Linked DNA regions of Homo sapiens. The protein of the gene in region 3 interacts with the protein of the main gene of each other region in a pairwise test. Each region holds a gene or a part of one and is shown on either strand. Other genes may lie near its edges.

Region 1 (7,900 bases), about 21 Mb from region 3:
CAACAGAGTGAGACTCCGTCTCAAAAACAAAACAAAACAAAACAGAACAAAACAAACCAGGACAAATACCTTAGAAAGGTCAGAATACTTTGCAAAGTACTTACACTGTACAAGTCTGGAACAAACCGCGTGCTCACTCCTTACCTGGCAAGGAGTTCAAGGCCATGCTTGGTCGGACAGCAGCTGAGGCAGGCAGTCACCCCCGAGTCTCCCTTCCAAGGTCACGCCCACCACTCATGCCCGATGGGACCACAATGCATGCCTTCATGCTCCACGCCTGCCTTGCATGCATGCTTGCACCAAGCCTACAATGCCGCATCCACTTTCTTTGCCTAGGCAAAGCCTCAAGTCCAGATCTTGGCCATCTCCTCAAGGCTCCTTGTCCCCCGCCTGACTTCACCTAGACTCCAGAGTCATGCACTCTGATTGCCCATGCTCTACAAGCTCTAGTCTTGCTGAAGGGCTAACTCCTCATTGCCCTCTCTGGTCCCCGTGTCACCGCACTCTCCAATGTCTGCCTCTCCAAATAATGAATCTCCTTTCAGAACTCACTGCTGCATTCCCAAGCCCAGCACCAGACCTGGCACAAAATACATGTTTATTGAGTAGATGACATTTAATTTGCGAGAATGTACTTTTAAAAGTGTCCTGTAAAGCCCGAGCCTGACTGTCTGATCTCCCACGGCACCCAATCAGCTGGGCTCCTCTGAGCAGGAAGCGATGTCAGATTTAAGTGAGTTTTGTAGGATCCCTGGGAAAAGCAGAGACAGGTGGCAGGCAGTACAGCCTCAGAGTTCAATAGAGCATGCCCAAATCTCCATCCAACTACCCTCCAGTTATCTGGCCACTTGATTCCTTATCTAGAAACACAGTGAAGAGCCAGGCGCAGTAGCTCACACCTGTAATCCCAGCACTTTGGGAGGCTGAGGCGGGTGGATCACCTGAGGTCAGGAGTTGGAGACCAGCCTGACCAACATGGAGAAACCCCGTCTCTACTAAAAATACAAAATTAGCCAGGCGTGGTGGTGCATGCCTGTAATCCCAGCTACTTGGGAGGCTGAGGCAGGAGAATCGCTTGAACCCGGGAGGCGGAAGTTGTGGTGAGCCGAAATCGCGCCATTGCACTCCAGCCTGGGCAACAAGAGCAAAAATCCATATGAAAAAAAAAAAAAAAAAAGAGCCAGGCGCAGTGATTCACGCCTGTAATCCCAGCACTTTGGCAGGCCGAGGAGGGCAGATCACGAGCTCAGGAGATCGAGACCATCCTGGCTCACACGGTGAAACCCGGTCTCTACTAAAAATACAAAAAAATTAGCCGGGCGTGGTGGCGGGTGCCTGTATTCCCAGCTACTCGGGAGGCTGAGGCAGGAGAATGGCGTGAACCCGGGGGGCGGAGCTTGCAGTGAGCCGAGATTGCGCCACCACACTCCAGCCTGGGCGACACAGCGAGACTCCGTCTCAAAAAAACTAAAGAAAGAAAGAAAAACAAACAGTGAAAAACCACCCACTTCCTAGGGTTCTGGGGAGGGGTAAATGAGGGAAATCCTTATTGTCATCATCATCAACCACTGTGTTCTGATAGAGGCACTCGGTAGCTGTCATTTAAATGAGTGAGTGGTACTTGCTCCTTTGTGAAATTCTACACATGGCTTTACTTTTCATTAATAAAGCTATTTCAAAGGGGATTTTGCCAAAAGACTTTTAGATAGCTTCAGGGAATTGTTTTAAAACTAACACAATTTGCCAGGCACGGTGGCTCACGTCTGTAATCCCACCACTTTGGGAGGCTGAGACGGGCGGATCACCTGAGGTTGGGAGTTCGAGACCAGCCTGAACAACATGGAGAAACCTCGTCTCTACTGAAAATACAAAATTAGCTGGGTGTGGTGGCACGTGCCTGGAATCCCAGCTACTCGGAAGGCTGAGGCAGGAGAATTGTTTGAACCCGGGAGGTGGAGGTTGCGGTGAGCAGAGATTGTGCCATTGCACTCCAGCCTGGGTAACAAGAGTGAAACTCCATCTCGAAAACAATAAAAAATTTAAAAAACTTACAAAAAAATAAAAACAACACAATTCAAGCTGGGCAAAGTGGCTCACACCTGTAATCTCAGCACTTTGGGGAATCCGAGGCGGGATAATCATTTGAGGTCAGGAGTTCAAGACCAGCCTGCCCAACATGGTGAAACCTCGTTTCAACTAAAAATATGAAAATTAGCCGGGTGTGGTGGCTGGCGCATGCATGTAATCCTAGCTAATCAGGAGGCTGAGGCATGAGAATCACTTGAACTTGGGAGGTGGAGGTTGCAGTGAGCCGAGATTACGCCACTGCACTCCAGCCTGGGTGATAGAGCAAGACTCTGTGTCAAACAACAAAAACCAACACAATTCAACTCTTAGGAAAAGTACACCAAAGACAGCAAGACTCCTCTGGCACTAGACCAAGTCAAGCTAAGCCTGCAAGCAAGCTAAGAAGAAAGACTACAAGGCACGAAGTCAACTGGCATCTAATTAATCTCTTTAGGGATACTGAAAAAGAAAATTTTAAATATGAAATCCTACTTCCCAGGTTTGGACTGATAGATCCTCTCATGCTAATGCTATCTGGCTCTGGGAAATTCCACATCATAAATTCCCCCTAGAACCCTTGCATTCTTTGAATGGGTGTGCGGAAGGCTGAATGCTCACTGACATGCTTTATAACTATGTATGAATATAAGGTCAGAACATACATAAGTATACATACTTTATAAGTATATGTGTTCTGACCTTATATTCACTATTGCAAAAGTACCAAGCCTAGGGGAACACATTTCAGGTATCAGTTCACACCTTGCCTCTTCAGTAAGTTTAAAGGATAGTCAAAATCACTTCATTATCTCCCCTTCATAATAGGAATTTAATCCATATCTAGGCAAAGTCAATCTGCAGAAATATTGGAGGGACTAAGAAAGTTATGCAAATCTCTACTAGTTGAGGTCATAATAGTAAAAATCAAATTAAAAAGAGAAGGCCGGGCATGGTGGCTCACACCTGTAATCCCAGCACTTTGGGAGGCCGAGGCGGGCAGATCATGAGGTCAGGAGTTCAAGACCAGCCTGGCCAAGATGGTGAAACCCCGTCTCTACTAAAAATACAAAAAATAGCCTGGTGCAATGGCAGGTGCCTGTAATCCCAGCTACTTGGGAGGCTGAGGCAGGAGAATCACTTGAACCCAGGGGGCAGAGGTTGCAGTGAGCCGAGATCATGCCACTGCATTCCAGCCTGGGTGACAGGGTGAGATTCTGTCTCAAAAAAAAAAAAAAAAAAAGAAAGAAAAGTTCAGAGATATGTTTTCTTCCTAAGAAAACCTATGCAGGCATTGCTGGGTTGCCTAAAACCAACTTCCAAATACATTTTTGGTTTTAGGTATGCCATCTCACACACCACACTGCTTGCTCCTAAAACATTATAACAGTGAGCATTTAGAATGGGTGGGATGGCTCATGACTGTAGTCCCAGCATTTTGGGAGGCTGAGGCAGGAGGACAGCTTGAGCCCAGGAGTTCAAAACCAGCCTGGGCAACATAGTGAGACTCTGTATCTACAAAAAAATGTTAAGGCCAGGCACAGTGGCTCATGCCTGTAATCCCTGCACTTTGGGAGGCTGAGGCAGGCAGATCACCTGAAGCCAGGAGTTCTAGACCAGCTTGGCCAACATGGTGAAACTGTGTCTCTACTAAAAATACAAAAATTAAGCCGGGCATGGTGGTGCATACCTGTACACACCTGTAATCCCAACTACTCGGGAGGCTGAGGCAGAATTGCTTGAACCCATGAGACGAGGGTTGCAGTGAACTGAGATCGCACCACTGTATCCCAGCGAGGGCAACAGAGTGAGACTCTGTCTCAAGAAAAAAACAAAACAAAACAAAAAACCCAGGTTTGAAGAGAGAGCTATATTTTCCTTCTGAAAACAAACTTACGGCAACAAAACATGTTCAGAGGGCCTCACGACTGAGATGAAAAATTCCTTCTTGCTAAACAGTTGAGTTCAACTGACTGCTGGGGTGATAAAAGGGGTGACTGGCACATTGAGAGTGGGCAGGATCAGAAAGATTTTCAAAAGCCTCACAGGATCAGTTGATCAGAAGAGACAATCTGCTTCCCAGCCCAGGTTGGTAATCTACCAGGCTGCAGGGTTTACTGTGAGGAGCTGTATTTCCTCCAGAGGGGTGGAAATAGCCCATTTGAGGATGGATGATTTTTGTCTGGACTTGAGTGAACTTTAGGGCTTTGAGTTCATCTAAAGGCTAGGTCCAAAGAAATGAGGGAGATTTGAAGCTTCAAAGTCTCGAAATAAAAGCCCCGGGGGTCATCCCAATTCAGAAAGAGGCCAGAAACCAGGAACCAGCTACCTAACACCTGTGTTATCAAGCATGAATAACGCCCCCCACCACACCATTTAATTTCTTTTTTTTTTTTCTCTGTCATCCAGGCTGGAGTGCAGTGGCACGATCTCGGCTCACTGCAACCTCCGTCTCCAGGGTTCAATCGGTTCTCCTGCCTCAGCCTCCTCAGTAGCTGACACATACTACAGGTGGGCATCATCATGCCCAGCTAATTTTTGTATTTTTAGTAGAGGTGGGGTTTCTCCACGTTGCACAGGCTGGTCTCGAAGTCCTGAGCTCAGGTGATCCTCCTGCCTCGGCCTCCCAAAGTGCTGGGATTACAGGCGTGAGCCACTGCACCCAGCCTAATTTCTTAGCCTTAAAACAAAAAGAGCTATCTTTGAAAATGGTAAAGAAGTAACTGGCTGGCAGGGCGTGGTGGTTTATGCCTGTAATCCCAGCACTTTGGGAGGCCGAGGTGGGAGGATCACCTGAGGTCAGGAGTTTGAGAGCAGCCTGGCCAACATGGCAAAACCCCGTCTCTACTAAAAAAATACCAAAATTAGCCGGGCGTGGTGGCAGGCGCCTGTAATCTTAGCTACTCGGGAGGCTGAGGCAGGAGAATCTCTTGAACCCAGGAGGCAGAAGTTGCAGTGAGCCAAGAACACGCCAGAGCGAGACTCTGTCTCAAAAAAAAAAAAAAAAAAAAAAAAAAAAGTAACTGGCTGCATTCCATTCTAAATCTAAAGCCTGTCTAGGGAAACTAGAATCTCAGGAGATTGCTGCAAGGAAAATGCAGCAGCCCTGGGGCTGTGCTGGGCCTGAGGAAGGCCACATCTGAGCAGAGCTCACCCCTTAAGCAGCAATATCCCGGTCTGGAAAGTACAAAAGTAGCTTCCAGGACACACCCAAAGCTCTGCCTCTGCGGTGACATTCCTGGGTGTGTCAAAACCATCTTCCCCCTTTCCCAACTCCTACTAATCCCTCTAGAATCTCCTCAGTGTCATGAAACTACTGAATGCAAGGTGCTAGGCATTGATCCTGGCTCTGGGAACACAAAGTATAATAAAGCCACTGCTCTCCGACTAGCCTAACAGACATCACGGAAGGCACCCTCTCCTGGCACAGCTCTTCTGTGCTAGGAATTACCTCTACACAGCACATTCCTGTTATAACAATTATTTACAAGTTGGTCTCCCACACACCCTACTTCTCAGTGGGCTCCAAGAAGGCAGAGAACATCTTAGCCATCTTGGTTTCTCTAGCACCTGGTACAATGCTCCAAAAAGAATAAAAACACTGGTTCACGTCTGTCATCCCAGCACTCTGGGAGGCCAAGATGGGTGAATCACTTGAGCTCAGGAGTTCAAGACCAGCCTGGACAACATGGTGAAACCCCATCTCCACAAAAAATACAAAAATTAGCCAGCCATTCATTGGTGGTTTGAGGCTGTAGTCCCAGCTACTTGGGAGACTGAGGCTGGAGAATCACTTGAACCTGGGAAGCAGAGGTTGTAGTGAGTTGAGATCATACCACAGCACTCCAGCCTGGGTGACAGAATAAGACCCTGTCTCAAAAACAAACAAACAAACATGGCCCGGCGCAGTGGCTCACGCCTGTAATCCCAACACTTTGAGAGGCCAAGGCGGGTAGATCATCTGAGGTCGGGAGTTTGAGACCAGCCTGGCCAACATGGTGAAACCCCATCTCTATTAAAAATACAAAAAACTAGCCAGGTGTGGTGGTGCACACCTGTAATCCCAGCTACTTGGGAAACTGAGATGGGAGAATCACTTGAACCCGGGAGGCGGAGGTTGCTCACTAGCCGAGATCGCGCCACTGCACTCCAGCCTGATCGCGCCACTGCACTCCAGCCTGGACAACAGAGTATGAGACTCCGTCTCAAAAAAACCCAAACCAAACCAAAAAACAGCCAAACAAACAAACAAAAACAAACAAACAAACAAAAAACCACAATGAAAACAGTTGGAGGAGCCAGGCTCAGTGGCTCATGTTTGAAATCCTCGACCTTTGGAAGGCTGAGGCGGGAGGATTTCTTAACTCAGGAGTTTGAGACCAGCCTGGCCAACATAGGGAGACCTAAAAAAATAGAAAGATTAGTCCAGGTGTGGTGGCTCAGGGCTGTAATCCCAGCACTTTGGGAGGCCGAGGTGGGTGGATCATTTGAGGTCAGGAGTTCAACACCAGCCTAGCCAATACGGTGAAACCCTGTCTCTACTAAAAATACAAAAAAAAATTAGCCAGGCGGTAGTGGCACACGCCTGTAATCCCAGCTACTCAGGAGGCTGAGGCAGGAGAATTGCTTGAGCCTGGGAGGCAGAGGTTGCAGTGAGCTGAGACTGCACCACTGCACTCCAGTCTGGGTGACAGAGTGAGACCCTGTCTCCAAAAAAAAAAAAAAAAAAAAAAAAAAGAAAGATTAGCCAGGCGTGGTGGCACAGGCCTGTGGTCCTAGCTACTCAAGAAGCTGAGGTGTGAAGATTGCTTGGGCCCAGAAGGTTGAGGCTGCAGTGAGTCATGATGACACTACTGCACTCTAGCCTGGGTGACAGAGCGCGGCCTTATATAAAAAAAAAAAAGCCAAAGAAATAGTTGTATGGTGACAAGGACTCTAATTTCTCAAACAGAGCATCTGAAACTACAAAAAGTGTCAACATTCCCTGAGAAGCAAAGGAAAGAAAGTTTGAAGAACAAATTTACTTTCTCTCCCCAAACCATGAACTTGAGAGCAGGAAGAACTTGAGAGCTATGCCAGAACCCAGTTCAGTACCCAGATATTGTAAAGGTCCGATAAATATCGGCCAAATTTGTTAAAAATTCATTGAAGAACAGGCCAGGCACAGTAGTTCACGCCTGTAATCCCAGCACTTTGGGAGGCTGAGGTAGGCAGATCACCTAAGGTCAGGAATTTGTGACCAGCCTGGCCAACACGGTGAAACCCCATCTCTACTAAAAATACAAAACTAGCCACGCATGGGGCGTATGCCTGTAGTCCCGGCTACTCAGGAAGCTGAGGCAGGAGAATCGCTTGAACCCGGGAGGCAGAGGTTGCAGTGAGCCGAGATAGCGCCACTGCACTCCAGCCTGGGCAACAGAGTGAGAGTCCGTCACACACACACACACACAATTCATTGAAGAACAAATGCATGCATTATCCACCTTTTTATCTGCCTCTTCCTTCCTAGGACTGCTGTTTACCTGGCTTTGTAACCCCTCCCCACTACAGGGCTCTAGTGGGTACACAGTCCACACCACCAGACCCTAGTCCCATACCCAGAGACCGTCCCTCACCTTACAACAGTCCCCATTCAACAAGGCCTCATCCTCCAAAAGGACTTCAGTCCTTTCCTTTCCTTTTCTGTAATAATCACTGCAGGACCCAGACACAGTGGGCTGCCTTGTGAAGCAGATTCTACGGATCCTGGCTGGCTGACAAGTGGTGAGTGGAGGTAAACGGGATGGGAGGTCTAAAAACTCCTTTATTTTTCCCCATTGCAACTGGAATAAATAGT
Region 2 (6,863 bases), on a different chromosome or scaffold from region 3:
CCCAGTACCTCCGAGTCCCCGCGCGCCGCCGCCGCCGCCGCCAAGCCCCGCCCCACGACGCCCCCTCCCCTCCGGCCCCCGCACGGCGCCCCGCCCCCTCGACGCCCCCTCCTCGCCGAGGCGGGGAGGAGCTCAGTAGGGGGAGGGGTCTGGAGAGGGATGGAGAATAGAGAGAGCAAGGCTCAGGGAAGTGCAGGGGACCTGAGTATTTGCTGTACCCACCACCGACTCTGCAGGGATCCGGGAGAACCTAAGTGACTTGTGCGATTCCGTGGACCCTGGGGAGAATGGTCCATTCTGGGCATACCTGGAGGCTCTGGCCAACAGTTCCCCCAGAATTCTCCAGGTGGGGGCAGGGGAAGAGGCGGGCCCCGCCAACTCTTCAGCAACCCAAAATCTTAACGGCAGACCCAGAACAGCAGGGTGTCCTTAATGTCCCCAAGTAACCTGAAGATGCTGTGTAGCCCGGAGAGGGGCTGAAGTGTGCATGACTGGGGTCTGGTTTGGCTGTAGACCAATCTGAACCCAAAGGTAGAAACACGCTGGGCTCTGAAAGCCAGGCTGAAGTCTGCTAACTGACAAATTCATCCCAAGTCCATCTCCAGGCAGTCTGGGCTGTGTCAGGGTATGGCCAAGTCTCCAGCTGTGGGGAGGCCCAGCACAACCCTTGTTCCAGGCACCCCCACCCCCAGCGCCACCACCCCCACATTCTTTCTTTGTTGTGAAAGCAGCAAGGGGTGTAGGAGGCGGGTCAGGAGGAGTCAAGCTTTAGAAGATGGGCCCCAGCTGCTGCTCAGGCCTCCAAGATATGCTGAGAGGGGATGGATAGTGCCTTGTCTCCCCTCTGGTTCCGGAGGGCCCCCCAGGCCTGTTTAGACCTCCCTTCCCCCAAGCAGCTGGGAGGAGGAATGGCAGCCACAGAGGGCCTCACAGCCAGGAGAAGTGGCGCCAGGACTCCAGGGTCCTGCCACATGGCCACCACATGTCCCTGACAACCCAGTCCACAGCACCTTCTCCTTGGGTTGTGAGCCTCCTTCTTCCCCATCCCCCAGATGCCTTCCTACAGGCCCTGCTGGAGATGATACAAACAACGGGAGGAAGAGAGGAGAGATCCAAGAATCAACACTCCTCCTGCTGCTCCATCCATCACTGCCCCTCACCTTCTGTGAAGGGCCCCAACACAAGCCCTGCTTCATACCCTCTTCAATCAGGACTCAAGTCACAGAAAGGTTACCTGATTCTTTTATTTAAGAAAAGTGAAATACATGGACCTGAAGTGAGACAGCAGAGGGAGGGAGTAAGAGCGGCCAGGGCAAGGCAGCTTGGCTGGCCAGCCCCCAACCCTCTGACTGAAAAGCCAGCAGCAGGCTGCATCTCTGAGGGCCATACCTGCTTTGTACCCACCTTGGGGCCTCAGAGCTAGCTACTCTAGAGGACCACAGGGTGCAGAGAGGGTGTCCTGAGGGTCCTTCCTAAGAGGGATTCCTGAGGAGGGAGCTGAGACCCTAAGGGCAGCAGCAATCTTCTGGTTAAACTGCTCCCCTTCACTGTCCCACCTAGGGGTGGGGAAGAGCCAGGAGCAATGGGGAATGCTGTGAGGGCTGTGGGGGTGGGGGGACCCAGCAGACCTGGGGGCCGGGTTGAATGTCAGCTGCTTGAAGAGAGGTCCATGGTGCTGGCACTGAGGCCCCGGGAGACCTGAAACAGACAACACTACCCCATCAGCTCAGGGACCTCGGCCTCCCAAAGACTGGCTCCTAGAGTCCATCCATCCCATGGTCACAGTGTATCTCTGGACCTAGGATCACATCTGTCTCTGGACCAGTCTATCTCTGGACCTGGGACTTTGTTTAGCCTCTGCTAGGGTTTTCCAGAAGGCCACAATCTGGTGGAGAAGCTACCTGGAAGAACCACATGAATACTGGCATATACTTGTGTGTTGATACAAGAAGTCATTTGCCATTAAAATATCACTAGTGTTTTCTCAGATGGGGATTATTTAATACTTTTCTTTTTCCATTCTCATCTACTACTAAGGCGGCTGCAGGATGAAAAAATAATTCGTATCTCCAAATAATTCTTAAATTATTCATAATTCCAAAGTACCAGTTTACAGAATATTCCTATTTCCCTCCTTATTAACTTATTTGCTACTATGTCTGGCCTGAAACTGTCCCTTGGTGGTCAGCACTCACCACAAGCTATCTGCCTGATTCCTTAATGACTGCAATCCCCTGGCTCATCTTCATCCCAGATGACTCCTCTCCCTTCCCTCTTCCCTTACTCCACTGGGCTTGCTCACTGGCTGTCCTTTTTTCCTCACCCACCAATATGCTCACAAGCACTGCTCTCACCTGGAGGGGTGCTGCACTAGGTTGGTTCAGATAGTTCAAGGAGGCTGCTCGCTTCATGTTGCTGCTACAATGGAAAACGGAAGAATTGAGGCCTCCTCTCTTCCTCCTGAGTGGCCTTAAGGCTGTGGGCCTCTTGAGCACTGCCACACTGGGGCACCCATTCTACCCAAACTCTCTCTCCATGGCTGGCCCGTTGACTTCCTCCCTGTTTCTCTCCGAGATACTTCTCCAGAGATCAGGAGCCAAGAGGAGTTGGAGGCAAGGGCTTACTTTACTTGCCTGCTTTACCATATCTTTTTTTTTTTTCTTTTTTTTTTTGAGACGGAGTCTCGCTGTTGTCGCCTGGGCTGGAGTGCAATGGCATGATCTTGGCTCCCTGCAACCTCTGCCTCCTGGGTTCCAGCAATTCTCCTGCCTCAGCCTCCCAAGTAGCTGAGATTACAGGCACCTGCCACCACACCCGACTAATTTTTGTATTTTTAGGAGAGAGTTTCACCTTGTTGGCCAGGCTGGTCTCAAACTCCTGACCTCAGGTGATCCACCCGCCTCGGCCTCCCAAAGTGCTGGGATTACAGGCGTGAGCCACTGCACCCGGCCACTTTACTGTATCTTGACTTCCATGTATACCTGGAGGGCCGAGGCTCAGTCCCCTGGAGCTTCCTCACCAAGAGTTCACTGCTTCTGCGGAGCACATCCCGGATCTTGCCAAGAGAGCCACTCCTCTGCAGGGTCCCACTGCCATCCTGGCAGAAAGGAGTGAGCAATGAAAGCTACAAGGATCCCACACAGATGGGTTTCTGAGTCTACTCCTAGCATTTATTCTGCACACATCCCCCACCCCCAAGGCCCAGTGACTGGAAATAAAAGTCCTGTCAAAAACTGGCTCCCAGAGATACCCCTGAAGGAATACACTACCTAGACTGGGACAGCATGGCCAAGAGCCTCTCACCACCACCAGCAGGAGTGGGCAGGAGAGATGAAAAGGCAATGATCAGACTTACCCCGGACCACTCCACAGCCACAGAAGCATCTTCACCTCCCTCGAATTTCACACTGTCTCCAGGGCCCTCCTGGGAGGTCCTTCTACCATCACTCTCCCCAAGCAGCTCTGCCACCTTCGTCTGGCTGATAGGGTCAGTGCCCTGGAAGGAAAAGGAAGGACCTGGGACTTCCTACTCCTTAACTCCTCAGGATGGGGCTTTCAAATTTTTTTCACCATCAGCCACTGGAAGGAAAACATTTTTCCTTGTGATGTCTCAGTTTATACCTACTGGAATAATACTTACCTTTTCTATTTGCAATGCATTGCTATATATAGATCTGTATATATTTTTATCCCCATGGCCCATACTGAATTGATTTCACAACCTACTATTGAGACCCACAATCTAAGAAATTCTTGATTTAGGCTCTCCCCAACCTCACTCCTCTCACCCATACCACCCAGGTCCCCTCCTTATGAAAGGGCAGGGTTTCTCCTTCATATCCCCATTTAGTGAATCTTGAAACTAGAGTCCTGACCACAAAATGCAGGTGGGGGGTAAGAACATGCTTAAAAACAACCACAATCACAACACTGCCTCACTTTCCTCTCCCTCCTGGCTTCATCAGCCTTTCCGCTTATTCTTAGGAGACTCCCAAGAAACCTCGGCACTCTCTCATCCCCAGGGCCCTTCCCTCTAGGACCTCCTTCCCCTCTGGGCTTCTGACCTGTCTCCGGGACCGCAGGGCACATTCCTCCAGGGTCTCAGCAGCCTCCAGCTTTCCCTGGCGCCTATACAGAGCTCCCAGGTTTCTCAGAGTAGTGTTCACTGTGGGGCTGTGGTGAGAAAGAGACCAGAGAAGGAAGAGAGAATGAGTTCAGAAAACAAAACATTTGTCTTCCAAGCAAGACAAGAGGAAAAAAAATAAGAAAATAGGAGAGGGAACAGAGCTAAAGCTGAGGGAAAGTCTACGGGAGGAAGGGAAAAGGTCTGGGAGGCTGGGAGCAGGGACTGGATGGAGGGCATCGGAGGCCAAGCTGGCTTTTCACTGTCAGCTCACCTGCTCACTTTGCAGGCCTTGTACCAGCCTCCATACTCAGCATAGGGTGTCCCACCCTCATGGTGCCGGCTCTGCAGGACAGAGAGAGGCCAGAAAGAAGGGCAGGGAGAGCCAAATATAAGAATACAGAGATGCTGAGATGCAAGGTGGCATGGGGCTAGGGTGCAGGCTGGGCTGGGGAGGACACCATGCATCTGGGGCTGGTGCTGGGATGGGAAGTGAGAGTTGGGCTAATGCAAGGAGTAAGACAGAGACCCCGGTAGCCTTGAGCTCCCCAGGCTGGCCCCCCTTCCCCCCACTCACTTTGCTCATTTCCTCCCGCTCCTCTGCATGCATCCAGATGGGCTTGTGGTCATCTAGGGGTGATACATGGGGTGGGGAGGTTAGAGATGGGAGCTAGACAGTGTCGGAGAGCCAGGACCCAGAGGCTGACAGGCTGGACTGAAGGGGTCTGGCTCCCCCTGGGAACCGCTGTGGCCTAACCCCCGACCTTTGGTCTGAATTTCTTTTCTTCCCCACAGCCCCTTCCCCAGGCCCTCACCACTCACCATCCACAGACCCAAACTCCTGTACATGGGCACGGGTCAGGATCTCTTTGTATAGTGTCTCAGCCTCAGCATATTTGCCCTGTTTCAGGTAACAGGAAGCCTGGAGGACAGAAAGGCAAAAATACAGGAACAAAACATGGAGGGAGGCAAGGTCTTTTTTTTTTTTTTTTTTTTAGACAAGGTCTTCACCAGGCTCAGGGAGTTCCACTTCTCAGTGTCTCTCTCACTTTCCCCAGAGATCTTTCTCACACCTCCTTCTCCAGGTGTAGGGTCAAGGGTATTCCCAGCCCACTCCCAAGAAGCTGTGGAACTTCTATAACTGGAATGAAGCAGATCCTTCATCCGCAAAGGCAGCCCCAGACATGAGCACAAAGTTGATGAGAGCAGTGTGCCAGACTGTGATGCTTCCTGACTCTAGGACCCAAGTGGCCTCTCCGCCTGCCCCCCCTCCCCCCACCTCTGTGCCCCCCTCTCCGTTTCTTCCACCTACTTTGTCCCTCCTCCCATACCAGGTTGTTCTTGGTCCGGGCTACATTAGGGTTGTCCGGCCCCAGCTGCCCCTCGTAGATGGCCAGTGCTCGCTGGTAGTAGCGTTCCACGGCCTCATACTTGCCCTGGTTTTGGCACAAGAGGGCCAGGTTGTTCAGCTGTTTTGCCACATCTGGATGATTCGTGCCCAGGACCTGAAAGGGAACAAAGGAGTGGATAAATGGCTATGATAACATGTGTGTGCACAAGCACACGTGTGTTTGCATGTAGGCACACACATGTGGAAAGCAGAGGAAAGGGAATGAAGGAAGAGAGAACAAAGCAGAGATGGGGGTGAGAAAAAAAAAGTGAAGGAGGAGGGTTAGACCAGAGGAGCCATGTAGAGAAGGGTCACAGCGACAAGAGAAGAAGGGAGAGAGGGCATGGGTACCTTTTCTCGAATCTCCAGTGCCCGCTGGCACAGAGGCTCTGCCTCCTTGTACTTGCCCCTTTTGCCATAGAGCACAGCCAAATTGTTGAGTGTGGCAGCCACCTATGAAGACAGGCCTGTCCCCATCAGACATTTGGGTTGCAAAAGACCTATGGGAATCTGAGGTTCCCCACCTCCCAGCAGGGCCCAACACTCACTGCACAACTCTAAGAGACAAAGTCTACTACCCTGGAGCCAGGGGCTGAAGGGAGGGGAAATTGCTGAACAGGATGGCTCTGAGGCTAAGGGACAGTATCGCCCTCTAGGGGATTTTAAGAAATTTCTGGAGGTGTTTTTTTTCTTTCTTTTTTTTTTTTTTTTGTTGTTGTTGTTGTCACCATGAAGATTACCTTTGAGGAGGCAAGAACGCTATAGATGTTCTGCATGTGTGGGACAGCTCTGCCAATTTTTTAATGTCCTGCCAGACATCCAAACGCTAAATGTAAACATTGATATTTGATGGGATATCAAGACAGGAGTATGATTTCTGAGATACATCATCCCTGCCTATCATATGTCATACCATAGGGAATTATTTTCACACAGATCACATTCAAAAATAGCTTTTTGGCTGGACGCAGTGGCTCACGCCTGTAATCCCAGCACTTTGGGAGGCCGAGGTGGGCGGATCACCTGAGGTCAGGAGTTCGAGACCAGCCTGACCAACATGGAGAAACCCCGTCTCTACTAAAAGTACAAAATTAGCCAGGCGTAGTGGCATGTCTGTAATCCCAGCTACTCGGGAGGCTGAGGCAGGAGAATTGCTTGAACCCGGGAGGTGGAGGTTGTAGTGAGCCAAGATCGTGCCATGTTGCACTCTAGCCTGGCAACAAGAGTGAAACTCTATCTCAACAAAAAATAAATAACTTTTCAGCTGGGTGTGGTGGCTCACACCTGTAATCCCAGCAGTTTGGAAGGCTGAGGTAGGTGGATCACTTGAGGTCAGGAGTTCAAGACCAG
Region 3 (8,756 bases):
TCATTGTCATACATAGAGGTGTCAATATCCTCAAACAGGCCCTCAAGCCCATCGTCCAGTAGACAGCCAGTGGCTGGGCCCAGCAGGTCCAAGGCACCCAGGCTGGGCGCTGCTCCCCCGATGCTACGGCCTGGTGGCCCCTCGTCTGCCAAGGGTTGGGGAGCCTGACTCAGGCCCTCAATGTGGCTGAGGTCCTCCAGGAGGCTGGCCATGGAGGCTGAAAGGGCAGCGTCCGAGCTTGCCAGTAAGTTGTCAGCCACACTGGGGGCTGCAGGTGGGCTAGGCACAGGTGGCAGGGCAGCCGCGGGTGCCATGGACGCCTGGATGCGCCGCAGAGTGTTCACGACCAGCACCAGGTGCCGCAGGTCCGGCTCACTCTGCTGCAGGCTGTGGTGGAGCTTGAGCACTGAGAGGTCAAAGAGGGAGCTAGAGGCCACGGCCGGGGGTGCCTGTGCCACCGCTGTGTGGCCAGGATCTAGCCACCAGGAGTCGACTGCCAGAGGTTCCTTCTCCTCCTCCTCCTCCCGTTTCCGCTTCAGACCCTTGCTCAGCATCTGCAGAGGGCAGGGAGTTATGGAGTTATAGTCAGTTATAGAAAACAAATGTTAAGTTCAAAGCCTGGATCTGACAGTTGCTGCAGGTAGGATCTTGGGGAAGTCACTTAACCTCTCTGTGCCTAGCTTTTCTTAGGGAACTTTAAAGATATAGACAATTTTTATTTAACTGTATATGTATATTTATAGATTTTTTTTGAGATGGAGTCTCGCTCTGTTGCCCAGGCTGGAGTGTAATGCCGTGATCTCAGCTCATTGCAACCTCTGCCTCACAGGTTCAAATGATTCTCGTGCCTCAGCCTCCCCAAAAGCTAGGATTACAGGCACATGCCACCACACCCGGCTAATTTTTATATTTTTAGAAGAAGCATGGTTTCACCATGTTGGCCAGGCTGGTCTCGACCTCCTGGACCTCAAGTGATCCGCCCACCTCTGCCTCACAAAGTGCTGGGATTACATGCGTGAGCCACCGCGCCTGGCCTATAGACTTCTTAAATTTTAAATTTTATATTTAAGTATATTTATAGACTTTTTTATCTGAAAAAATAAAGATGGGGTCTCACTATATTGCCCAGGCTGGTCTCAAACTCCTGGCCTGAAGCGATCCTCCCCCCTCAGTCAATAAGTACTTTTTTTTTTCCCTTTTATTTTTTTGTAGAGACATGGTCTCACTATGTTGCCCAGGGTGGTCTCAAACTCCTTGCCTCAAGCCATCCTCCTTCCTCAGCCTCCCAAAGTACTGAGATTACAAGTGTGAGCTGCCTCACCCTGCCAATAAGTACACTTAATGATAACATTATTATTTCTTCAGTGAACCATGTGGAATGGCCAATATTCAACTTTTTCCCCTACAAAAGCAGCTGTTTCACATATTTTATTATAATAACATAATTATATCTAAATAAGTTATAATATTATAAATACTAAACTAGTTTCACGTAGTTTAATATTTATTGTCTACTATGACTATGTTTCAAACAGTAAATAAATAAGGAAACACAGGAAATGTACAGAGAATTACAGGAAGACACTAAAAGTTCCTAGAGACCTTTTAGATCATCAGAGAAGGCTCCTGTAAGGAGGTGACATTTGAATGGAGCCCTCAGGCCAGAGAAGTCAGCCATGGGAGACCCTGGGAAAAGCATTCCGGGAGGAGGGAACAACAAAAAAAGGCAGAGAAAAGCCCAGAGGCTGGATGGGCTTGAACTGGAAAGAGACCAGCATGGGTGGCACACAGAGAGTGACATGGTAGGAGACCAGATTGGGGAGCAGCTAGGGGAACGGGCACAAGCCAGGTCACAGAAAGCCACATATGCAGAAGTAGGGAGTTTGGATTTTATCCTGAGTGTGGTGGGCAGTCATTAAAGGAATTTGAGCAGGGAGGGAATGGTGCTGTGAGCTGATTAGGTTTCCGGAAGATCCCCCCCATGGCTGCTTCGAGGAAGACTGTGGGGGGCAAAAAGAGGGGGGATCTGAGACCCACTGGTAGGCTGTACTCGTTTGGGACGGACGATGGTGATGGCCTGGAGTAGGAGCTGGTAGTGGCATGGAAGGAAGTCGGTCGAGTCAGGACTTATTTGGGAGGCAGAATAGACAGGGCTTGTCGGGAAATCGTGATCGGCACCGGGTTCAGTCACTGAGATAAGTTTGAGGGTCCACTGTTCTTGGAGTGGCGGGGGTAGGGCTGGAGTTTTGGACTCCTGGCGCTACCTACTTTTTTGGGCCAGGAAGACTGTAGAGTCCAGTTTCGGAACCCTGCCTAGCAAGATTTTAAGAATGGCCCACCACACTACTCAAAACAGGGTCTTCGTCCCCTTCCCCGCAGTCCGGGGAGTCCGGAACCGCAGGAATTCCGCCCCCACCCCCGACTCCGCCCCCGGGTCCCGGCGCCCCCTAGCGGTGCCCAGGCCGGCTTTCCCCCGGGGATTCTGGCCCCTCTGACCCCAGGACCCCTTCTACTGCCCCGATTCCCGGCTGTGATTCCTGCCGGCCTCCCGGCGCCGTGCGAGCCGGGACCCCTGGCGGGCTGTTCTCTGCGCCCGGCCTCCGCTCGCTTCCGGCAGTGGAGGCGGCTCCTCCCGAAGCGGCGGCGGCGGGGGCGGGTGAGTCACGCAGCCGGAGCCAAGAAGCCGGCGCCTCCGCCCCCTTCTCGGACTGCGGCGTGATTCACCCGGCCCGGCCGGGGCAGACAGCACGTAGAGGTCCGTGCGTCTCGATCCCGGGCAGCCCCGGCGGGCACCTGTCGGACCCAGGGATCGAACTCTGTGAAGGACCCGGCCGCTGGTAGCCCTTCTGTTCCCAGGCCCCTTCATTTACATACCTTGCTCACTAGCGGCCAATCAGAACGAAGAGGTAGCCACCCACAACCAATCAGGAAACGGCGGCGGCAGCATCGCTTGTTGGCTGTCCTCCGGAAACCCGCGCCTGGGTCGCGAGACGCAGTTCTGACTCCGGCTCACGACTCCAGACTCCTAACTACCCTTAGCGACCGCCCACTCTCGTGGCTGCCCCGCCCTCCGCCCCAGGGATTGGCCCTGCATGGTGATGGGCGGAGCTTGTAGGGGGCGGATTCTGAAGGAGGGGCTTCAGGGCGCATGCCCGGGCAGCTGCGCGAGTGAGGGGTGGAAAGAGGTGGCTTTTTACTCCGGGGAACGGTGGCGAGTGGGGGCTTTTGCCTCTCAAAATACGAGCCCCTCACAACTACCCATGCACCTGCCAAACCCGGCAATTAAGCTTCTTACACATCCAGCCCCGACAGGGGTCTACACTACAGATAATGCCCGGGTTCAAATTCCGACTCCGGATTCCCCACTCACTGGATGCGTGACCTTGGAAAAATGATCAACCTCTTCAAGCTACACAAAGTTAAATGGGGATCGTCTTGCCTACCTCTTGACAGGATACTTTAAGTAGGATCGTATCTATAAGAACACAATACCACACTCAAGCAATGCTGGACAGTTGGACTTAATTGTGGTTAAAGGCGGGAGTGAGGTGGGAGTGCGATACCAACGGAATCACATCCCGGGCTCCATTCCCTAAGCAGCTGTGTGACCTGCGGCAAGTGTTTTAATCCCTTCTGGTCTGTTTCTCCTTTAAAATGAGAGAAAATAGCGCCTAGTTTACAGGATTGTTTTTAAGGATTAAATTAATTCATGAAAAATCTTCAGAGTGGGGTGCAACATGTTTTGTGTTTTTTTTTTTTTTTTCATTTTATTTATTTATTTATTTATTTATTTGAGACAGATTCTCACTCCGTCGCCCAGGCTGGAGTGCAGGGGCACGATCTCGGTTCACTGTAACCTCCGCCTCCCAGGTTCAAGCAATTATCCTGCCTCAGCCTCCCGAGTAGCTGGGACTACAGGCGTGCGCCACCACGCCCGGTTAATTTTTGTATTTTTAGTAGAGATGGGGTTTCACCATGTTAGCCAGGCAGGTCTCAAACTCCTCACCTCAGGTGATCCGCCCTCCTCGGCCCCTGAGTGTTGGGATTACAGGCGTGAGCTACCGCGCCCAGCTGCTTATTATTTTTTTCTTTACTTTTTATTTTATTTTATTTTGCTTTTGAGACAGGGTCTCGCTCTGTCACCCAGGCTGAAGTGCAGGGGTGCCATCTCGGCTCACTGCAGCCTCCCAGGTTCAAGCCATCCTCCTGCCTCAGACCCCCAAGCAGCTGGGACTACAGGCGCACACCACCATGCCTGGTTAGCAACGTTGTTTCTTTGTTAGTAGTAATAGCTGTTGTAATAAGACAAGCTCTTAGTTCAAGGTGGATAGACATGCAGGATGGGGCTAGAGGTAGACAGGGTATAATACTCCTCCCATGGCCGGATGCAGTGGCTCACGCCTGAATACTCTCTCACCTAGATTTAATTGATAGTTGTTAGCTAGGCAACAACTGTAATCCAGTACTTTGGGAGGCCAAGGCAGGAGGGTCACTTGAGTCCAGGAGTTCACTTGAGTCCAGCCTGGGCAACACAGTGAGATCTCATCACTACAAAAAAATTTAAGAATTAGCCAGGCGTGGGCCGGGCGTGGTGGCTCACGCCTGTAATCTCAGCATTTTGGGAGGCCGAGGTGGGCAGATCACGAGGTCAGGAGTTCGAGACCAGCCTGGCCAACATGGTAAAACCCTGTCTCTACTAAAAATACAAAAAATCAGCCAGGTGTGGTGGCAGGCGCCTGTAATCCCAGCTACTCAGGAGGCTGAGGCAGGAGAATAGCTTGAACCCAGGAGGCAGAGGTTGCAGTGATCCAAGACAGCGCCACTGCACTCCAGACTGGGCAACAGAGCAAGACTCTGTCTCAAAAAAAAAAAAAAAAAAGGATTAGCCAGGCGTGGTAGCATGTTCTTGTGGTCCCAGCTGCTTGTGGGGCTAAGGTGGGAGGATTCCTTGAGCCCAGGAGGTCAAGGCTGCAGTGAGCCATGTTCATGCCGCTGCACTCTAGTCTGAGTAACAGAACAAGACCCTGTATCAAAAAAAAAAAAAAAGAAAAAAGTAGTAGTTGGTAACATTGTGCTAAGTTCCCTTTATCTACATATGTGTATATATTGTTTCTTTTGCTAAACCTTTGGAGAGTAATTGCAAGCATCTTGATATTCTACCCTTAACAGCTCAGGAGGCATCTCTTAAGAATAAGGACATTAGGCCCTGTGCGTTGGCTCACACCTGTAATCCCAGCACTTTGGGAGGCTAAGGCGAGTGGATCACCGGAGGTCAGGAGTTCGAGACCAGGCTAACCAATATGATGAAACCCCGTCTCTACTAATAATACAAAAATTAGCCGGGCATGGTGGCATGTGCCTGTAATCCCAGCTACTCAGGAGGCTGAGACAGGAGAATTGCTTGAACCCAGGAGGTGGAGGTTGCAGTGAGCTGAGATTGCGTCATTGCACTCCAGCCTGGGCAACAAGAGCAAACTCCACCTAAAAAAAAAAAAGAATAAGGACATTCATGTACAAGCCACAAAAATACTATTTCACATCTAATAGAATCAAGAATTCCACAATATCACCTAATCAAATCTCTCCAACTGACCCAAGAATATCCTTTATAGTTGCTTTCTTTTCTCCAAAATCAGGATCCAATGAAGGTTCACATGCTAATTTGGTTGTAATGAAGAAATTACATACTATATTTTATTCTCGAATATTCCCCCACCCAAATCCCTTTTTTTTTTTTTTTTTTTTTTGAGACAGAGTCTTGCTCTGTCGCCCAGGCTGGAGTGCAGTGGCATGATCTTGGCTCACTGCAACCTCCATTTCCGGGTTAAAGTGATTCTCCTGCCTCAGCCTCCCGAGTAGCTGGGATTATTGGCGTGCGCCACCACGCCTGGCTAATTTTCTTGTGTTTTTAGTAGAGACAGGGTTTCGCCATGTTGGCCAGGCTGGTCTCAAACTCCTGACCTCAGGTGATCCACCCGCTTTGGCCTCCCAAAGTGCTGGGATTACAGGCATGAGCCACCACACTCAGCCTCAAATCCTTTTTGATGTTTTGTTGACATTGAATTTCTGGCAAAACAGACTAGTCATGCTGCATAGTGTCCCACATTCTGGATTTGTCTGACTGTGTTTAATTTGTTCCTCTCTTTTTCCAATAAGCTGGAGGTTGGGTCTAGGGGCCTGGTGAGATTCTGCTTATGCAGTGAACAGGGAGACTCCACAGGGTGTGTCCTAATCCTTATTAATGTACTTCCTAATCCTAACGCATTATAGTAGTTGGCACCAGTGTCAGGATGTCCCACCATTGGTAATGCAGAGTTTCATCACGTGATTAAGATTGTGAGGGTTACATCGTAAAATAAATTTATCCTTTCTAGTTAGCAAATAACCTTTGGGATGATGCTTTAGAGCCTGTGAAGATCCTATCTCCAAGATGTATGTGGTGGCTCATGCCTGTAATGCTGGCACTTTGGGAGGCCAAGGCGGGAACTTAAGCCCAGGAGGTTTTGTGATTTTTTTTTTTTTTTTTTTGAGACGGAGTCTCACTTTGTCGCCCAGGCTGGAGTGCAGTGGCACGATCTCGGCTCACTGCAAGCTCCGCCTCCTGGGTTCATGCCATTCTCCTGCCTCAGCCTCCTGAATAGCTGGGACTACAGGTGCCCGCCACCTCGCCCGGCTAATTTTTTTTCCTTTTTTTTTTTTTTGTATTTTTAGTAGAGACGGGGTTTCACCATGTTAGCCAGGATGGTCTCAATCTCCTGACCTCGTGATCCGCCCGCCTTTGCCTCCCAAAGTGCTGGGATTACAGGCGTGAGCCACCGCACTTGGCCAGTTTTTTTTTTTTTTTTTTTTTTTTTTGAGATGGAGTCTTGCTCTGTCGCCCAGGCTGGTGTGTAATGGCGTGGTCTTGGCTCACTTCAACTTCCGCCTCCCGGGTTCAAGGATTCTCCTGCCTCAGCCTCCTGAGTAGCTAGGATACAGGTGCATGCCACTATGCCTGGCTAATTTTTGTATGTTTAGTAGAGACAGGGTTTCACCATGTTAGCCAGGCTGGCCTCAAACTCCTGACCTCAGGTGATCTGCCCACTTTGGCCTCCCAAAGTGCTGGGATTACAGGCATGAGCCACCTTGGCCTCCCAAAGTGCTGGGATTACAGGCGTGAGCCACCACATCTGGCTTTTTTTTTTTGGGGGGGGGGATGGAGTCTCTGTCACCCAGGCTGGAGTGCAGTAGCACAATCTCAGCTCACTGCAACCTCCGCCTCCCGCGTTGAACTATTCTCCTGCCTCAGCCTCCTGGGTAGCTGGGATTATAGGCGTGCACCACCATGCCTGGCTAATTTTTGTATTTTCAGTAGAGACGGGGTTTCAACATGTTGGTCAGGCTGGTATCGAACTCCACCCACCTCGCCCTCCCAAAGTGCTGGGATTACAGGCATGAGCCACTGTGCCTGGCCAGAGCCCAGGAGTTTGAGACTAGCCTGGGCAACACAGCAAGACCCAATCTCCACAAAATACTGGTTTTTGTTTATGTTTTGTTTGTTTTTGAGACGGAGTCTCGCTCTGTCGCCAGGCTAGAGTGCAGTGGCACTATCTACAGAATACTGTTTTTAAAAACTTATCCTAGCATGGTGGCATGCACCTGCAGTCCCAGCTTCTTGGGAGGTTGAGGTGGATCACTTGAGCCCAGGAGTTTGAGGCTGCAGTGAGCCATGATTGCACTAGTGCACGCCAGCCTGGGTGAAAGAGTGAGACCCCAAAAGATCCTGTTTTCCACTAACTTTTCACCCAACTGTTTGAGCATTCATTGACAATTGCTGCCTGAATTAACTACCATAGTTAGCATTTTTGAGAACTTACTTTGGCCAGGAGCTTTATTCAAAACTAAAAGCTCTTCCCACAGCTCAGGAATTAACAAATGAGCTACTTGAAGAAGGTTAAGTCTCATTGCCAGTTTATGGGACGAGTATTTTTTTTTTTTTTTTTGAGACGGAGTTTCGCTCTTGTTGCCCAGGCTGGAGTGCAATGGCACAGTTTTGGCTCACCACAGCCTCTGTCTCCTGGGTTCAAGAAATTGTCCTGCCTCAGCCTCCCGAGTAGCTGCGATTACAGGCATGCACCACCACGCCTGACCAATTTTGTATTTTTAGTAGAGACGGGGTTTCTCCCTGTTGGTCAGGCTGGTCTTGAACTTCTGACCTCAGGTGATCCGCCTGCCTCGGCCTCCCAAAGTGCTGGGATTACAGGCATAAGCCACCATGCCCGGTCCACGCCTGGCTCTTAAATTTTTTTGTAGTGATGAGATCTTACCATGTTGCCCAGGCTGATCTTGAACTCCTGGACTCAAGTGACCCTCTTGCCTTGGCCTCACAAAGTACTGGGATTATAGTTGTTCCCTGTCCAACAACTATCAAATAAATCTAGGTGAGATAGTATTCAGATGCTCAGAATACTTTTTTTCCCCATCTTTTCTATGTGCTTGAATTTTTAATAATAAAATTAAGGTAAGATGCTAATTAGAACCAGGCCCCCACTAGGCAAATTCACATTTTCTGCCCTCCAGAATCCATTTTTATGGCTGGCAAAAGGGACGCCTGGACCTGGAGTCTCCCAGTGGCTTACTCCAGGTCATACACTGAAGGAAAAGGAAATTTTCCTTCATGCTTGTAGTTTCAGCTGCTTCAGAGGCTGAGGTGGGAGGATCGCTTGAACCTGGGAGACAGAGGTTGCAGTGAGCCAGGATCAGGCTGCTGCTGCGCT
Region 4 (7,900 bases), on a different chromosome or scaffold from region 3:
CTGTGGCCCAGACTGGAGTGCAGTGGCTTGATCTCGGCTAACTGCAACCTCCGAAAGTGATTCTCCCGCCTCAGCCTCCCAAGTAGCTGGGATTGCAGGCACCTGCCACCACCCCCAGCTAATTTTTTGTATTTTTAGTAGAGATGGGGTTTCACTATGTTGGCCATGCTGGTCTCAAACTCTTGACCTCAGGTGATCCACCTGCCTCGGCCTCCTAGAGTGCTGGGATTACAGGCATGAGCCACTGCGCCTGGCCAAAACAAAAATTAAAAAAAAACAAATAAAAATACAACAATTAGCTGGGTGTGGTGGCAGGCACCTGTAATCCCAGCTACTTGGGAAGCTGAGACAGGAGAATCACTTGAACCCAGGAGGCAGAGGTTGCAGTGGGCAGAGATCACCCCACTGCACTCCAGCCTGGGCAACAAGAGTGAAACTCCATCTCAAAAAAAAAAAAAATTAACAAATGGGAGGGAGGGAACAAATCTCCCACGCAGAATAATTCCAAATAATTTATGTAGATACTGCACCCTCAAGCAGGTGGTGAATACGTCCCTACCCCCAGGTGTGGGCTATGCATAGTGACTTCCTGCCAAAGAGCACAGCGTGGGAGGAGGAGAAAGAGCAACGTCACAGCAGAGGAACCTGGAAACACTGCCCAGCCAGGTGATCAAGGTCAACTTCAGCAGTGGAAAGTCCTGGCTGTGCACAGTGGCTCACGCCTGGAATCCCAGCACTTTGGGAGGCTGAGGTGGGAGCACTGCTTGAGCCCAGGAGTTTGAGACCAGCCCGGGCAATAGGTGGGACCCAAAGAAAAGTCCTGATGACAGTATATCCAGTACGTGCCCTTGATATGACATGATAGAAATGGCACTTTACTTCTGTGGTCCTCCTCTGAACAAAACCCGTAACCTCAGTCTAATTAGGAGAAAAACATCAGATAAATCTCATGATGTTCTACAAAATACCTGACCAGTATCCCTCAACATTGTCAAAGTCATCAAAAACAGGGAAGTCTGAGAAACTGTCACGGCCAAAAGGAGCCTGAGGAAACAAGGGGACTCGATGTCATACAGGATCCTGAAGCCAAAACAAGACATGACGGAAAAGCTAAGGCAGGGCGCCAGGGCTCACACCTGTGATCCCAGCACTTTGGGAGGCCAAGGTGGGAAGATCACTTCATGTCAGGAGTTCGAGACCAGCCTGGCCAACATGAGAACCCCGTCTGTACAAACGAATTTTAAAAATTAGCCGGGCATGATGGTTCATGCTTGTAGTCCCAGCTACTCGGGAGGCTGAGGCAAGAAGATCACTTAAGCCCAGGAAGTAAAGGCTGCAGTGAGCTGTGATCATACTACTGCATTCCACAGCGAGACCTTGTCTCCAAACAAACAAAAAGGTGAAAATATAAAGATCTTAAATGTTTATGGGTAAGCTTCAGTTATCCAAGTTCAAATATGTGTAAAACCTGATTTCCTGTGCCTAGCAAAGAAATAAGGTGGTGTTATCTTCACATCTGGTGGCCAGTATGGTAGGTATTGAAATTTAGTTATTAGTTCATTAAACAAACACTTTAGTCTCTTACGTGCTGTATCAGGGATGGGCAAACTATCCCTGGAACACAGGTCAATTCTGGCCCATAGCCTATTTCTGTATGGCCCATAAGCTAAGATGGTTTTTACATTTTTAAATGGTTGAAAATAACCAAAAGGACAATAGTGATTGTGACTCATAAAAATTATACAAAATTCTAATTTCGGTGTCCAAAGATAAAGATTTCCTGGACGAACATGGTGGCTCACGCCTGTAATCCCAACACTTTGGGAGGCTGAGGTGGGTGGATCACTTGAGGCCAGGACTTCGAGACCAGCCTGGCCAACATGGTGAAACCCCATCTCTACTAAAAATACAACAATTAGCTGGGCATGGTGGCGCACACCTGCGATCCCAGCTATGTGGAAGGTTGAGGCACAAGAATTGCTTGAACCCAGGAGGCGGAGGTTGCAGTGAGCCAAGATCTCGCCACTGCACTCCATCCAGCCTCAGTGGCAGAGTGAGGCCCTGTCTCAAAAAAAACAAAAACAAAAACAAAAAAGGCCAGGTGCGGTGACTCACGCCTGTAATCCCAGCAGTTTGGGAGGCCAAGGCAGGCTGATCACTTGAGGTCAGGAGTTCGAGACCAGCCTGGTCAACATGGTGAAATGCTGTCTCTACTAAAAATACAAAAATTAGCTCATGTGGTGGCACGAGCCTGTAATCCCAGCTACCTGGGAGGCTAAGGCAGCAGAATCACTTGTACCTGGGAGGCGGAGTTTGCAGTGAGCCAAGATCATGCTACTGTACTCCACCCTGGGTATCAGAATGAGACTCCATCTCAAAAAAAAAAAAAAAGAAAATCCAAAAAACAAAGATAAAGTTTTCATGGAATGCAGCCACATCCATTTACGCATATATTATCTATGGCTGTTTAGTCCTATGTGGCAGAGATGAGTAGCTGAGATAGAGACTGGCTGGCCCTGGAAGCCTAAAATATTTACTCTGTGGCTGGGCGTGGTAGCTCATGCCTGTAATCCCAGCCCTTTGGGAGGCCAGCAGGTGGATCACCTGAGGTCAGGAGTTTGAGATCAGCCTGACCAATATGGTGAAACCCTGTCTCAACTAAAAATGCAAAAATTAGCCAGGCATGGTGGCGGACGCCTGTAGTCCCAGCTACTCTGGAGGCTGAGACAGGAGAATCGCTTGAGCCCAGGAGGCGGAGTTTGCGGTGAGCCAAGATCACGCCATTGCACTCCAGCCTGGGCGACAAAGCAAGACTCCATATCATGGAAAAAAAAAAAAAATTTACTATGTGATGAGCCCTGAAAGTGGGTGACATTTCCCCGGATGACGCACAGGAGGAGTGAGTGTCTAAGACAGCATCTTGGGGAACATTAAGGTTTACGCAGCAGGCAGAGGAAGAGAACATCAGAGGAGACTGAGAAGGAGTAAGTGATGGCCAATGGTCAAGCAAACCCCAAATACGTCCATCGGATTCAGTGACAGTGACCACAAGTGGCCTGCGTCTTTATGTCTTACCAACCCATCCAAGGTGGCCTGCAGTTCCTCACACAGCTTCTCCAGTTCCTCGTTATATTCCAGACACACCTTTTCTTCATTTTCCTTCGAGGCTGGGCTGCTGCTGTCTAGTTCTATCTTGTCTTTATTCCTAAACAAAATAGAAAATAATGTGTACAAAATATACTCTTTAAGCTTGCCTTATTTCCTTATAATAAATTCTACAAACCTCTATATCCACATAGTTACGTGGGACATTTTGCATAAGCATTGTTCTTTCATATCATTATGATACAAATGCAGTTATTATTTATATGTGCAATGAATATGTCCATTGGTCACTCAATTTTGCACCAAAATAAGTCAGTTAAATTCAGCCATGTGACAGCCGGTTTTGGTGGCTCATGCCTGTAATCCCAACACTTTGAGGGATGGACGCGGGAGGACTGCTTGAGTCCAGGAGTCTGAGTCCAGCCTGGGCAACACAGTGAGACCTCATCTCCACAAAAATTAAAAGTAAAAATTAGCTGGGCATGGTGGGACACGTATGTGGTCCCAGCTACTTAGGAGGCTCAGGTGGGAGGATCACTTAAGCCCAGGAAGTCAAGGCTGCAGTGAGCCATTATAGCACCACTGCACTCAGCCTGCACAAAAGAGCAAGACTGTCTCAAAAAAAAAAAAAACACCATTCAGCGGTGTGGCATCCTTGGCATAGGGCATGGTGCTGGATGTACAAAGATGAATAAGACATGGATCATTTCCTCAAAGAGTTCACAATCCAGGAATATAGGCACGCCTCATTTTATTGTGCTTCACCTTATTCAGTTTCATAGATAATGCATTTTTTACAAATTGAAGGTTTGTGGCAACCCTCTGTATGTAGAGCAAGTCAATCAGCACCATTTTGCCAACAGCATGTGCTTACTTCATGTCTCTCTATCATATTTTGGTAATTCTTACAATATTTCAAACTTTTTCATTATTATGTCTATGATCTGTGATTGGTAATCTTTGATATTGCTAGTTTAATTGTTTTGAGGTGCCATGAACCATGTGCATATATAACGGCAAGCTTAATGAATGGATGTTGTGTGTTCTGACTGCTCCACTGACCGGCTGCTCCCCTTTCTCCCCATCTCCTTGGGCCTCCCTGTTCCCTGAAATAGGAGGATACTGAAATCAACCCAATTAATAGCCCTACATTGGCCTCTAAGTGTACAAGTGAAAGGAAGAGTTGCATATCTCTCATTTTAAATCAAAAGCTATACTTTGGCCAATTTAAGAAACAAAAAAATTAAAAGCTAGAAATGATTAAGCTTAGTGAGGAAGGCATGTCAAAAGCTCAGATAAGGGGCCAGGTGCGGTGGCTCACGCCTGTAATCCTAGCACTTTGGGAGGCCAAGGCGGGCAGATTGCCTGAGCTCAGGAATTCAAGACCAGCCTGGGCAACATGTGAAACTCCGTCTCTACTAAAATACAAAAGAAATTAGCTGGGCGTGGCGGTGTGCACCTGTAGTCCCAGCTACTTGGGAGGCAAAGGCAGGAGAATTGCTTGAACCCGGGAGGCAGAGGTTGCAGTGAGCCAAGATTGCACCATTGCACTCCAGCCTGAGCGACAGAGCGAGACTCCATCTCTACAAAAAAAAAAAAAAAAAAGCTAAGATAAGCTGAAAACCAGGCCTCTTGTGCCAAACAGTTGGCCAAGTTGTGAAGGCAAAGGAAAAGTTACTGAAGAAAATTAAAGGTGCTACTCCAGTGAACATGTGAATGATGAGTGAAACAGCCTTAGTGTGGATATGGAGAAAGTTTGAGTGGTCTGGATAGAAGATCAAACCAGACACAGCATTCCCTTAAGTCAAAGCCTAATCCACAGCAGGACCCTAACTCTCTTCAATTCTGTGAAGGCTGAGAGATATGAGGAAGTTACAGAAGAAAAGTTTGAGATAGCAGGATTTGGTTCATGAGGTTTAAGGACAAAAGCCATCTCCATAACATAAAAGTGCAAGGTGAAGCTGCAAGCGCTAATGTAGAAGCTGGAGCAAGTTATCCAGAAGATCTACTTAAGATCAGTGATGAAGGTGGCTACATGATACAACAGATTTTCAGTGTAGATGAAACAGCCTTCTATTAGAAGAACATGCCATCCAAGACATTCACAACTACAGAGAAGTCAATGACAGGCTTCAAAGCTTCAAGAGACAGGCTCACCCTCTTATTAGGGGATATTGCAGTTAGTGACTTTAAGTTGAATCCAATGCTCATTTACCATTCTCAAATTCCTAGGGCCCTTAAGAATGATGTTAAATCTACTCTGCCAGTGGAAAAAGCAAGAGAACCAGAACTGGAAGTGGGGTCTGAAGATGGAACTGAATTGCTGCAATCTCATGAGAAAACTTGAACAGATAAGGAATTGTTTCTTATGGATGAGCAAAGAAGGTGGTTTCTTGAGATGGAATCTATTCCTGGGAAAGACACTGTGCACACTGTTGAAATGACAACAAAAGATTGAGAATATTATATAACTTAGTTGATAAACCAGTGTGAGAGGTCTAATGTGGGTAAACACTATTAAACAGCAATGAGAAAGAACAGAACCAGAATAGTGGCTCTACATTACACGCATGGCTTCCATGTTGAAAGACAGTGAGACATGGCTGGGCGCAGTGGCTCATGCCTGTAATACCGGCATTTAGGGAGGCCAAGGTGGGCAGATCACTTGAGGTCAGGAGTTTGAGACTAGCCTGGCCAACATGGTGAAACTCTGTCTCTACTAAACATACAAAAATTAGCCGGGCATGGTGGCAGGTATCTGTAATTCTAGCTACTCAGGAGGCTGAGACAGGAGAACCACTTGAACCTGACAGGCAGAAGTTAGAGTGAGCCAAGATCACGCCATTGCACTCCAGCCTGGGGGATAGAGTGAGACTCGTCTCCAAAAATAAAAAATAAAAAATAGAAAAAGAAAGTGAGATATAAAGGAAACAATAACATATGTTTTTTGTTTACGTAAAATCCAAAAATGGATGAAAAGAATTCATGGTAGTTTTTTCCATATCAGCTAGGTAATGTGCCAACATCATAGCAAAGTTTGAGGAAGGCACAGGTCATACATGAGCATGAAAACCCAATCATTATGCCTATGAACTACAAAAGAATCAAAGAATCTGTGGTTTTAAAAATCAGAATAGCCAGGCACGGTGGCTCACACAGCACTTTGGGAGGCTGAGGCAGGTGGATCACGTAAGGTCAGGAGTTCGAGACCAGCCTAACATGGTGAAAGCCCGTCTCTACTAAAAATACAAAAATTATCTGGGTGTGGTGACGGGCGCCTGTAATCCCAGCTACTCCGGAGGCTGAGGTAGGAGAATTGCTTGAACCCAGGCGGTAGAGGTTGCAGTGAGCTGAGATCGCGCCATCACACTCCAGCCTAGGCAACAGAGTGAGACTTCATCTCCAAAAAAATAAATAAATAAATAACTAAATATATATATATATATATATATATATGGAATATAATTTTGTATTTAAAATGTACAATACAATTTATACTTACACGTATCATCTTACCACTTGCTTTTTTTGCTTAATATTTTATTTTAAAATTTATTCACATTATTTCCCCAGTTATTAAGGGTGAAAAACTTAGAGCATGAAAAACCAATATGTACTTACAATAAACTGATTTTCAAGTTGGCAATATTATTTGCAGTGGTAAAACCTGCATCATTGAGGGTTTCCCACTTCAGGATTAAATTGTGCCAATCAGCCGCATTGTCCTTAATTTTTCTTGCACTGACAGATAAGACAGGTTTTCTGGGCGTTACAGTTCCAAGAGTCTTTGCTGATAGGGTATAAAAGAAACAAAATTATTATCATGGAATATACAATCATAGTTGGAGGGCAAATGTCCTTATAATTTTCAACAGTAAAACTATCTGAAATGCTGTATCAACTGGACAAATAAATGTGGAAACTACAAAGTCTGAATGAATGTGAAAGTTCCTGGAAGAAGACAATATAGAATATTTTTAACATTTTAAAATTCACCAGATAGAGCTGAATCCTCTTCCAGCTTAATGGCTCCACAAAGTTTTTACCTTAAGCCCTTTGTTTTCCAAAGATTGGAAATAAGGTAAAGTTGTGACTGTCTGCTAAAACTCTTCAATGGCTCACGTTCCCTTCCCTACAGGATAATCTAGCCCTGACTCCCGAGTACTTCCACTATCTAGTCTCAGGCACTCTGATACTTTAAATTTGCTCAGAGTAGCGTGGCCCATGAGTGCTAATCATTTCAAGACACTGAGACAACAGAGATGCAGAGTTGATCACGATGCTGCCACTGCCCTTCTTGGTAATCAGGAGGAAGTCCAAAATCCTTCCAGACCTAGCTACCCCTCCACATCATCACGTACATCAACCCACACCTTGGCCCCCCGTCAATATCCAGCGAAAATGAACTACTGGCAGCTCTTGAAAAGCTGAGGTGCCTGCAGGCCTTTACACGTGTTCTCTCTGCAGGAAAGCTCCTTCCTTCCTCAGGCTCACGATGCCCATCCTCCAAGATGCACCCGGATCCCACTGCCTGTAGGAAGCAACCCCCAGACCACCAAGAGCCAACTCAGGTTGTTTGTTCTCCCCGAACCCTCCTGTGCCCTCTTGCCTTCTCTACTTTGAACCCCACAAAGGCTTCTCACTGCCCACAGGATAAAGTCCTCTTGAGGAATCCAGGACACACAACAGCTGGATGGTTTGATGCCTCAAGTCAGAAGACCACACTGCCTGCGTCTGAACCCCAGCTCGCCAGCTGTGAGATCTTGGGCAACTTAATGTACCTTTCAGAGCCTCA

What was found.
Region 1: the proteins of SERTAD1 (region 3) and PBX4 interact in binary tests that used the Homo sapiens proteins (3 or more experiments, as listed by UniProt).
Region 2: the proteins of SERTAD1 (region 3) and KLC4 interact in binary tests that used the Homo sapiens proteins (3 or more experiments, as listed by UniProt).
Region 4: the proteins of SERTAD1 (region 3) and CINP interact in binary tests that used the Homo sapiens proteins (3 or more experiments, as listed by UniProt).

Annotation. Positions count from the first base shown.
Region 1 is NC_000019.10:19,608,391-19,616,290, forward strand, and holds part of PBX4 (pre-B-cell leukemia transcription factor 4), read right to left. Parts: intron 1-7,900.
Region 2 is NC_000006.12:43,069,457-43,076,319, reverse strand, and holds the end of KLC4 (kinesin light chain 4), read right to left. Parts: intron 5,967-6,863; coding exon 5,865-5,966; intron 5,629-5,864; coding exon 5,455-5,628; intron 5,046-5,454; coding exon 4,946-5,045; intron 4,754-4,945; coding exon 4,701-4,753; intron 4,469-4,700; coding exon 4,398-4,468; intron 4,174-4,397; coding exon 4,065-4,173; intron 3,497-4,064; coding exon 3,356-3,496; intron 3,098-3,355; coding exon 2,982-3,097; intron 2,419-2,981; coding exon 2,355-2,418; intron 1,988-2,354; exon of another isoform or gene 1,699-1,987; coding exon 1,648-1,698; 3' UTR 1,227-1,647; downstream 1-1,226.
Region 3 is NC_000019.10:40,422,993-40,431,748, forward strand, and holds the start of SERTAD1 (SERTA domain-containing protein 1), read right to left. Parts: upstream 3,001-8,756; 5' UTR 2,875-3,000; intron 555-2,874; coding exon 1-554. UniProt on the Homo sapiens protein: Acts at E2F-responsive promoters as coregulator to integrate signals provided by PHD- and/or bromodomain-containing transcription factors. Stimulates E2F1/TFDP1 transcriptional activity.
Region 4 is NC_000014.9:102,352,693-102,360,592, forward strand, and holds part of CINP (cyclin-dependent kinase 2-interacting protein), read right to left. Parts: intron 6,896-7,900; coding exon 6,727-6,895; intron 6,211-6,726; exon of another isoform or gene 6,107-6,210; intron 3,206-6,106; coding exon 3,076-3,205; intron 1-3,075. UniProt on the Homo sapiens protein: Component of the DNA replication complex, which interacts with two kinases, CDK2 and CDC7, thereby providing a functional and physical link between CDK2 and CDC7 during firing of the origins of replication.